Linked DNA regions of Homo sapiens. The protein of the gene in region 1 purifies or fractionates together with the protein of each later gene. This does not show direct contact. Each region holds a gene or a part of one and is shown on either strand. Other genes may lie near its edges.

Region 1 (3,500 bases):
AGTCCTCCTGACAGAAAAGGGATGCATCCCACCTCCCTTTTAGGGAAGGGGTCCCCATCCCTAAGTTAAATGGCTTGACCAGGGATTGCCAGCCCTGTGGACAAGCATGGGCTTCTTCCATCTCCTCTGCGCTGGGGAGGGCCTGGCCTTCTGCCCCTTCCCTAGCCTCCTTCTCTGCTGAACTCTCTAGACCCTGGACCAGAGGCAATAGCCAGAGCTGCTTTTGGGGTAAGCAGGCACAGTGCTATGTACGGACATGTCCGCAATCTCACTCAATCCTCCCTGAGGCCCTGTGAGGGTGGTACTGTCACCCCCACTTTAAAGATGAGGAAAGAGGCTTAGAGAAGTGAGGAGGCTTGTCCCAGTCACACAGCTATTCCCTGTGCCTCAAAGTATTTTCACAAGATCTCATCACTGTTACTTGTGAAGACAGGGATGAATGCAGCAGCGAGGATGAATGGTGTGCCATGAGGTGGAAGTCCAGTGCCAGAATAGGAAGGGAGGAGCTGGAGAACCAAAGGAAGGGGCTGAACCATCCCTCTCTCCCAGTACGGCCTCCCAGAAGGGAGGACAAGCCTGTAGATGGATCCTCATGACCCCTCACCCTAGGCCCCTGCAAAATATGAAGTCCGAAGAGATACCTTTCCCTGCTCAGGTTGACACGGGCTTTGCTTTCTGGTCTAGAAGCAGGTGGGAGCAGGTGCAGCCTGACTCTTCACTCCCAGCCACGCAGGTGAAGACACAATAGCCTTTCTGCAGCTCACCACTAGGCCTGGAGCTTGGGGCTTTAAAAGGTCCCCATACATCCTCTGAGCCACCAAAAACTGTTTGCCAAAGAAGGCAGGGGTAGAAATAGCTGCATTCATAGCCTGTGCTCTGTCATCAGGCACGCACAGCTGGGTTCACGGGATCCTGGGGTAGTAACACTGACTCCAGGTCTCACCGAGGCCTGAGCTTGGCCACACCTCTCCCCATGTGTTAGCTCGGTGGTTCCAATCCAACAACGAGACAAATGTCTTAGGTACTTCATAACAGGATTCAAATGGAACGAATTCTTTTTTCCTCCCTTATCACTTTGCACACATGAAATCTATTTTTAATTAGCTTTCAATACATCATCTAAAAAAAAAATCCTACAGCTTGCTCCCACCCCCAAATTGTTCTTAGAGAAAGAAAGATTTGTCTTGTAAGTTTCTTAAGAAAATCTATATGTGCTCAATGCATTTAAATAACACTCATTAAAGTGAATGGCACACAAGCTGGCTTCTCTAGTCACAGATGAGAGACAATCGCTTGACCTACTGCAAATCAAAAAGCATTTCCACGCCACCTTTATTTTTCAACTGGTTAAGTTTTAAATTAAAGTCCCAACGCCCTTTTTGGAAAGGCAGACTAATAGGGCCCCAACTGAAATTTGAGCTCAGTCGATCAGAAGATAATTACAAGAAACAAAATGTGAAATTTTAAATCTGGGCACTAATGAAGTCTAAAAATACCAGTGGCCCATCCCTCTGGCTGGCAAGACCTGTTCTTCATGGAGGGGAATCTCCCCATAATTACTCAACCCCGGGAGAGGCCAGGTTGTCACGTCAAACAATAGCAGGGAATATCGGGGACTTTAACGAGCTAGATCTCAAGGCATTGCATGGTGGATCTTATTATAATGCTGGGCAAGGTTTCAAACAGAGAACAGGAGAAAAGGAAAGTTCTTTTTTTTTTCTAAAGTGGAGTTCTGACTTGTGTTGACGCCATCACGCAGAGCCTCCTGTTCCTGCCTGGAGCCAGCTGTCTGTCATTTAGGAGTGTGAAATCAATTGGGCTTCAGAGATGTAAAATCCCTAGGGGCAAAATTAAAAGTGACCCAGATCCAAGCCCACCTGGTCCTGTCAGGAACACGACTCTCACATGGCAAGTTTCAAAGATTTAGTTTCAAAATTCGGGTTTCTTATTTTAAAAAATATGCAGTTGTTTGACATTAGATCTGACAGACAAATTATAGCTTCAGCAATAAAGGCTTTTAAGATTAGAAATGAAAAGAGAAATTACTTATATATTAAAAAAAGAAAAAACCCACCCAGGCTTGAGTTTGGAGGCATTTGTAGGCGCGTGCGTCACTCTTTCTTCCCTGCAAATATAAGGGGCTCCATCAGCTGATGAGGCCGTAAATAGAGAAGCGAGTTACATGGAATTTCGAGGAAAGAGCCAGTGTGCTGGCAACCTCTGGAAATCAGGGTGATGGACCGGTCAGTTGTTGTCACTGGCTAGAGCTGGTGGGTCCCGCTGGCTCACCAGAAGGCAGGGCTGAGGACACTTTCTAGGCCCACCCCATCCCTGGCCCTCACACCTGGCCCTCGGTCTGCCCAGTGGGGCCTGGTAGAGGGAATCTTAGCAGGGCCCCTATTTCTTGTCCCCTCCCTTCCATTGGCTCAGGACCACCACAGAGGATGGTTCACACCCTCAGGTCCTTGCACAGAGGTTACAGGAACAGCTCTGCAATGGTCATTGACCCAGTGGGCACAGAAGTCCTGCAGGGTCCTGTCCCCGCCACCTGTGTCTTTCTGATCTCATGGGCTCAGGGCTGACAATGTTTAGCTGCCTGCACCCAGCAGCTTTGGTGGGGCAGATCCCAGCTTGGTGCTGAGCCCCAGACTAGGGACTCCAGTCCTTTCTCAGCTAGTTACCTTTTTGCACAAAACAGCTCCTTTTCCTAGATGCGTGCCTGGAACGTGGCAAGCCAGCAAGATCTTGCATTAGCCCAGAGGGGCTATGTGGGGACAGAATATGCCACCCGGTGCCTTGGGCTTTGGCATAGCCTTGGAAGTAGGATGCCCGCTGCCCAGTTGTCAGAGTTGGTAACTCATGAACTTGAACTGGGAGTAAGTTTCTTTCTTTCTTTTTTTTTTTTTAAAGGGAGACAGAGCTTAACCAAAACAATGCAAAGAAAAAATCAATTTAGTCATTTTTTTAAAAAAGATCTTAAAGCAAGAGTTTACCAGAATTTAGATGTAATTTTCTACAATTTTGTCATTTAAAACTAGTGCTGATTTCCAAAACAAAGGCAGTTAGGGCTCAGTCAGATTGGGAATTAAACCCAACAGAGATCCAGACATGAGCTTTATTGTTGGGATGCTTGACAAGGCATGAAAATTGCTTGAAATGACAAAGGAAGAGACTTGGGAGAGAAGACAGGAGAGTGGCTAGTGGGGTTCCTTGCTCTGCCGAAAGGCAGAGCACCCCGAAATGCCATCTCAAGGGGTTTTATGTGGGAAGGCTGGGAAGTTGTGCCCAGAGATGCATACTTTCTGGGACCGTCTAGTGTCCTCTTTCAAAAGAGATGTAGACACCCCGTTGGGCCAGACTGTTTGCCATGGACCCTTATGCCCCCACTGCCTGTACCTGGCAGTGGCCCAGCAGCCTTCCCCACTGCATCCAGCAGGAGCAGGGACTTGGCTTGTCTGGGGCACTAAGGGCTAGGCAAACCTATAGCAGAGGAATCCAGC
Region 2 (2,807 bases), on another chromosome or scaffold:
CCACCCATCATAAGCCCTGAGTTAGGGGCTGCGTCTCTCGTGCTGCTGTCCCTTCCCACTGCAGGGCGTTGCTCTGTACCTGGCCGCTGTGAGAACAAAGCCTGCGCAGTGGCGATGGACTCTGGTAAGCTTCTTGGATTTACTTCCCAAGTGAAGTGCGGGGTGGAGCAAACCTCTAGCTCTGAGGCAGGTCAAGGGTCCAGGACACAGCCTGGGGCCTGCGCCAGCAGCTCTTCGCTGCTGACTGATTTCTCTGCTGCAGGACGGGCAAGGCCCACCCAGGGCGCCCCAGCAGGAGAGGGCTCACCATTGCTTCTCTTTTCATTCATTCATTCATTTTGTTTTTAAGAAAAAAAAACAACAACAACAAAAAAACAGGTCTAATAAGCCTTCCTTGGAGCCAAATGGGCAAAAATGTAAGGATTAAATCCCTCGCTTGGAATCGGCTACCAAAAGCTTTGTGTGACAAGAAACATTTCTGAGGCCTGTGTGAGGCCTCTCTGGGCAACAGACAGGAGCAGCAAAGTTGCAGCGTGAGGCTTTTGGAGGCACAAGGCCATTCGGGGGGTACCCGTCTCAGCCTAGCGCCTGAAGCCGGCATGCGCCTTTTGTGTGGATGTGGTCTGTGTTGTTTTGAGCCTTGGGACACTTCCTGTCCTGCAGGAACTTATGCAAGGACAGGACCCTGTATTTCTGGAATCTTCTGAGTGTTCTAAGATAGGGGCATCACTGTCATGACCTGAAGCGCCTCTGCGTGGTGAGGAGAGCCTCTGCTTAGTTAGCGGGCGTCAGGTACCATGTGGGAAAACACTGGACAACTGAGGTAAAACTTCTCCTGGGCAAAAGACCCCGGGGAAAGCCAATTTCCATGATGATGAAATTTTTGAGTAAACCATAAATCCTAACATAAAAGGAACTAGCAAAATCAATGCAGATCAGATTCCTCAATTAGACAATTGTTTTGCCAGCCCCTTTGTGAATCATGCTTGGGTTCATAAATGAGAAGAAACAACTTGGGGTGCAGAAGCAAGCTGCCCTCTGCCCCCTCCCTGAAAGCGCAGAATCTTTTCCTGCTGTCATCTGCCCAGAGCAGCCACACCAGTGCCCACGTGTCAGTGGGTTCATCTCTGGTTTTTGGTGACTTTTTCTTTTCTTCTTTGGAAGTCCAAGGTTTGTGAGGTTTCAGGACAAGATGATACAGCCTAGTTTGAGTCCCATCTGAGACACGGTAGTGGGATTCACCATGGGCTTCAGAAGTCCACTAATGGGAAGACCTGCTGAGGGCACTAGTACAGCAACGAAATTTCCTGGAGATTCTGGGTTTAGTGGCTCGGGGCAGAGGCAGGAGAGGGTGTTCTGTCTCCTCCTCACTCAGGGGCTCTTCGAGGTCAGCACTCAGACTGGAGGCCAGGGCCCCTGCAAAGGAAGCAGAGAACTGCTAAGTCATGGAGGCAACGGCGGCTCTACGGCCACACATTTCAGGGAGGATCTGTGGCACTCAGAAGGGAGGGAAACTCCCAGGAGAAGGGTCTGGTGACCTCCTCCCACGCTATGCCGGCAAAGATGTTTGTTGAATGAATAAACACATGAATGTCTTTCTTCTTATTCTTTGCCCTGGGCTTTTCTGCAGCATAAAAGAAGCTATGAATCTTGTGAAATTAATTCAGACTTACTGTCCAATTCATAAGTAAAGAATGAAGAGAAAAGGCATCTGGTCACAGTGAAAGGGAGGAAGAGCCACTGAAGAAGCAGTGGCTGGAGTCAATGGAAAAGCCCGTGAAACTTCAGAGGCCGCTCTGCAGATCCCTGGCGGTGTTCCTGGAATCTCCACGTGTTTACATATCGATATTCTACACAATGAGTTACAACTCGATTATTCCCCAAAGGGTCTAAGACTAGAGGTCAGTCCTAAATTGCTTGTCTGAATGAGTCCAGATGAGCATACAGCTGTTCATCACTGGAGGGAAAAGGAATAAAATTAAAACCTGCACATCTGCACCCCCCGCTTCCCCAGGGCTGCTGTCGGTGTGCTCAGAGGAATACAAGAATGCCTGCTGCAACACCAAGCCACTGTTGCGGGTGGAGCTGGGTCTCCCCTAGCACCGTTCTGCGAGCGAGAGGATCATTTCATCACCCTTCCCCTCGTAGTGTATTTTTAAACCCTGTTGTATTATGCCCCAAGTTTCCTGCATGACCTCTGCTGGGAACCAACCTCAGAAGCAGAGTTTCCACATCTTCCTCCCTGCGTGATTCACTTGCAGGGCTTTGGCCTTTGAAATTATTATTATTATTGGCATTTGAAATTAATTTAAGTCAGTTATTTTATTCACAGACGCATCTTTTTTCATTCTCTGACCTTCCCTTATTGTTTCTAGGAGGAGTTTCCAAAATCAATACTTGCAAACGTGCTTGGACCTATGGAGGCAGCCTGGCTCAGGGTGTCCTGAAATTCAGTACTTTCAGAGTCCAGGGGCTTCATGGTTGCCTCCCTTCTTCTAGGCTCAGTCAGGTCGGGCATACAGAGAAGGCTCACTATTCTCATCTTTAAAACAGGCTGCAGCCGGGCGCGGTGGGCGGATCGCTTCAGCCCAGGAGTTCCAGACCAGCCTGGGAAACACAGTGAAACCCCGTCTCTACAAAAACATTGCAAAACTTATCCAGGCATGGTGGTGCGCACCTGTAGTCCCAGCTACTTGGGAGGCTGAGGTGAGAGGATTTTGAGCCTGGGAGGTCAAGGCTGCAGTGATGGCTTCACTGCACTCCAGCTTAGGTGACAAAGTGAGACCCAGTCTCAAAAAAAAAACACC
Region 3 (3,500 bases), on another chromosome or scaffold:
ATCCAGATGCCTGTTTTCCCAGCTGGTCAGCTTGTCAGAGGCTTTAGGATTTTACTACCCAGGGCGCTGGGGCCCAGGCCTGACTGAGGTTTCGTGCCTGGAATAAATGGACACAGGGACCTGCTGCCAGAGACTTGGGCCCTTCCTCATTTAATCTGCAGGAACCACAGGCTTGTTTTTGCTTGCTTTTGTTTTTTTGAGATGGAGTCTTGCTCTGTTGCCCAGGCTGGAGTGCAGTGGCACAATCTCAGTTCACTGCAACCTCTGCCTCCCGGGTTCAAGCGATTCTGTGCCTCAGCCTCCCGAGTAGCTGGGATTACAGGCGCCTGCCACCACGCCGGCTAATTTTTGTATTTTTAGTAGAGACGGGGTTTCACCATGCTGGCCAGGCTGGTCTCAAACTCCTGACCTCAGGCGATCTGCCCGCCTCAGCCTCCCAGAGTGCTGGGATTACAGGTGTGAGCCACCATGCCTGGTGGGCTTGGTTGTTTTTGTTTTTGTTTTTCTGAGACAGAGTCTCATTCTATTGCCCAGGCTGGAGTGCAATGGCATGATTTCGGCTCATTGCAACCTCCGCCTCCCAGATTCAAGCCATCCTGCTGCCTCAGCCTCCCTAGTAGCTGGGATTACAAGCGCCCACCACCATGTTCGGCTAATTTTTGTATTTTAGTAGAGACGGGGTTTCACCATGTTGGCCAGGCTGGTCTTGAACTCCTGACCTTGTGATTCGCCCGCCTCGGCCTCCCAAAGTGTTGGGATTACAGGCGTGAGCCACAGCGCCCAGCCGGGCTTGGTTTTCAATAGCCATGATGCTGCCGAGGGTGATAGTTAATGTCCTGTATAGACTCCAGACATTGAAGAGGACATTTGGCATGGCCAACCACTTGCATTAGAAAAATGTGAAAAATAGCAAGTTGTGAGCACAGCAGATACTTCTTTTGGTCTCCTACCATCTGTGTCCCCCTTGGGCAAACTCATTTCCCCCATTCCTCTTTACAGCTAAGCAAAGGCCTCCAGGAAGGCTTCCTGACTGATCCCACCTGAAACAGAGGGTCCTGCTAAGCGGGGTCCCCTTTGCAGGGTACTTTTCCCAGCTTGGCACTCAACATGCCAAGTCTGTTAAACTCACTACTTTGAGATCTTAAAAATCTGAAGGGTTGACTGGGCACAGTGGCTCATGCCTGTAATCCCAGCACTTTGGGAGGCCAAGGCAGGCGGATCACTTGAGGTCAGGAGTTCGAAACCAGCCTGGCCAACATGGTGAAACCTCATCTCTATTAAAAATACAATTAGCCGGCGTGGTGGTGTGCACCTGTAATTCCAGCTACTTAGGAGGCTGAGGCGGGAGAATCGCTTGAAACCGGGAGGCAGAGGTTGCAGTGAGCTGAGATCATGCCATTGCACTCCAGCCTGGGCAACAGAGTGAGACTCCGTCTCAAAAAAGAAAAAAAAAAAAAACCAATGGTAAAAATAGGGAGTAGTGCAGTGGACTGAATATTTTACTTATTCAAAATGTGGTGCAATGCAAACATATTTGCAGATTTGAATGAGTTCAGTAGAAAAAAATGGATTCATAAGTTGGATTCATAAAAGCAAAAAGCAGAGTAAAACCAAATACACTGAAAGAAATAGCAATTAAAGTAGTATTAAATGAACTCTAGCAAGGCACGGTGGCTCATGCCTGTAATCCCAGCACTTTGGGAACCCGAGGTGGGCAGATCACTTGAGGTCAGGAGTTCGAGACCAGCCTGGCCAACATGGTGAAACCCCATCTCTACTAAAAATACAAAAATTAGGCCGGGCACGGTGGCTCACACCTGTAATCCCAGCACTTCGGGAGGCCGAGATGGGTGGATTGCTTGAGGTCAGGAGTTCAAGACCAGTCTGGCCAACGTGTTGATATCCCATCTCTACTAAAATACAAAAATTAGCTGGGCATGGTGCTGGGCGCCTGTAATCCCAGCTACTAGGGAGGCTGAGGCGGGAGAATTGCTTGAACCCAGGAGGCGGAGGTTGCAGTGAGCTAAGATCATGCCACTGCACTCCAGCCTGGGCAACAGAGCAAGACTCCGTGTCAAAAAAAAAAAAATTAGCCAGGCGTGGTGGCACGTGCCTGTAGTACCAGCTACTCAGGAGGCTGAGGCATGAGAATCACTTGAACCTGGGAGGTAGAGGTTGTAGTGAGCTGAGATCGCACCACTGCACTCCAGCCTGGGCAACAGAGTGAGACTCTATCTCAAATAAACAAACAAATAAAAAAAAATAACTCTAAATAAAGTACTATAGGGTTTATTAATAAAACCAAGTGTGCTTTTGGAAGACTATCAGAATATCAGAATTCTGCCTAAATTTATTAAGAAAAGAGATATATGTATAAGTATACTATCTGAAAAATAAAGCAATTACTACAGATTTATCCATGAATTATGTAGAATTTTATGTCAATTTTTATTAACAAAATTAATTTTGTTCATGTAAAACGAAAAAGACCTCTATCCTGCCTACTTTTTTTTTTTTTTTTTTTTTGAGACAGATCCTTGCTCTGTCGCCCAGGCTGGAGTGCAGTGGCACAATCTTGCTAATCTCCACCTCCTGGGTTCAAGCAATTCTCATGCCTCAGCCTCTCAAGTCTCTCGAGTAGCTGGGATTACAGGCGCCCACCACTATCTCCAGCTAAATGTCTTTTGGGGTTTTTTTTTTTGTATTTTTAGTAGAGATGGAGTTTCACCATGTTGGCCGGGCTGGTCACAAACTCCTGATCTCAGGTGATCCGCCCGCCTCAGCCTCCCAAAGTGCTGGGATTACAGGCGTGAGCCACTGTGCCCGGATTTTTTTTTTTTTTTTTTTTTTGAGACAGGGTCTCACTCTGTCACCCAGGCTGGACTGCAGTGGCACCATCTTGGCTCACTGCAACCTCTGCCTCCCTAGTAGCTGGAATTACAGGCGCCCGCCACCACATCTGGCTAATTTTTTAATTTTTAGTACAGACGGGATTTCACCACATTGGCCAGGCTGGTCTCAAACTCCTGACCTCAGGTGATCTGCCTGCCTCAGCCTCCCAAAATGCTGGGATTACAGGTGTGAACCACCACGTCCGGCCTGTCCTGCCTACTCTTAAGGACTATGGCTTTCAAGAGAGCAGATGACTGTCCCCCCAGCACCCACAGGCCTAATCAGGGCAGGAGCTGGTGGCTTTGCTGGGAGGGGAAGTGAGTGGGAAGCAGCGGGCCGCTCGGCGAGGCACGCAGCCTGCTTGAGCAGGAGCTCTGAATGGTTTCCTTGCCTTGCACAGCCCTGATTGAGTCCCTCAACCAGAAACCACAGACTGCCGGTGACCAACCCCCACCCACAGACACAACCCATGCCACCCACAGGAAAGCAGGTGGGACCGATGCCCCCTCGGCCAACGGTGAAGCTGGAGGAGAGAGCACCAAAGGCTACACTGCAGAACAGGTTGCAGCTGTGAAAAGGTAGATGGGTGGGCAGGGGCTGGAGCCTGG

The links. Proteins that work in one complex are often made in the same cells at the same time.
Region 2: the proteins of KLHL29 (region 1) and RALGAPA2 purify together in Homo sapiens (affinity purification with mass spectrometry, with the first as the bait; one large-scale study listed by BioGRID). This does not show direct contact.
Region 3: the proteins of KLHL29 (region 1) and DNAJB12 purify together in Homo sapiens (affinity purification with mass spectrometry, with the first as the bait; one large-scale study listed by BioGRID). This does not show direct contact.

What each region holds. Positions count from the first base shown.
Region 1 is NC_000002.12:23,643,679-23,647,178, reverse strand, and holds part of KLHL29 (kelch-like protein 29), read right to left. Parts: intron 2,126-3,500; exon of another isoform or gene 2,097-2,125; coding exon of another isoform or gene 2,075-2,096; intron 1-2,074.
Region 2 is NC_000020.11:20,391,838-20,394,644, forward strand, and holds part of RALGAPA2 (ral GTPase-activating protein subunit alpha-2), read right to left. Parts: exon of another isoform or gene 1,674-2,807; intron 1,417-1,673; coding exon of another isoform or gene 1,262-1,416; 3' UTR 1-1,261.
Region 3 is NC_000010.11:72,344,920-72,348,419, reverse strand, and holds part of DNAJB12 (dnaJ homolog subfamily B member 12), read left to right. Parts: intron 1-3,292; coding exon 3,293-3,470; intron 3,471-3,500. UniProt on the Homo sapiens protein: Acts as a co-chaperone with HSPA8/Hsc70; required to promote protein folding and trafficking, prevent aggregation of client proteins, and promote unfolded proteins to endoplasmic reticulum-associated degradation (ERAD) pathway.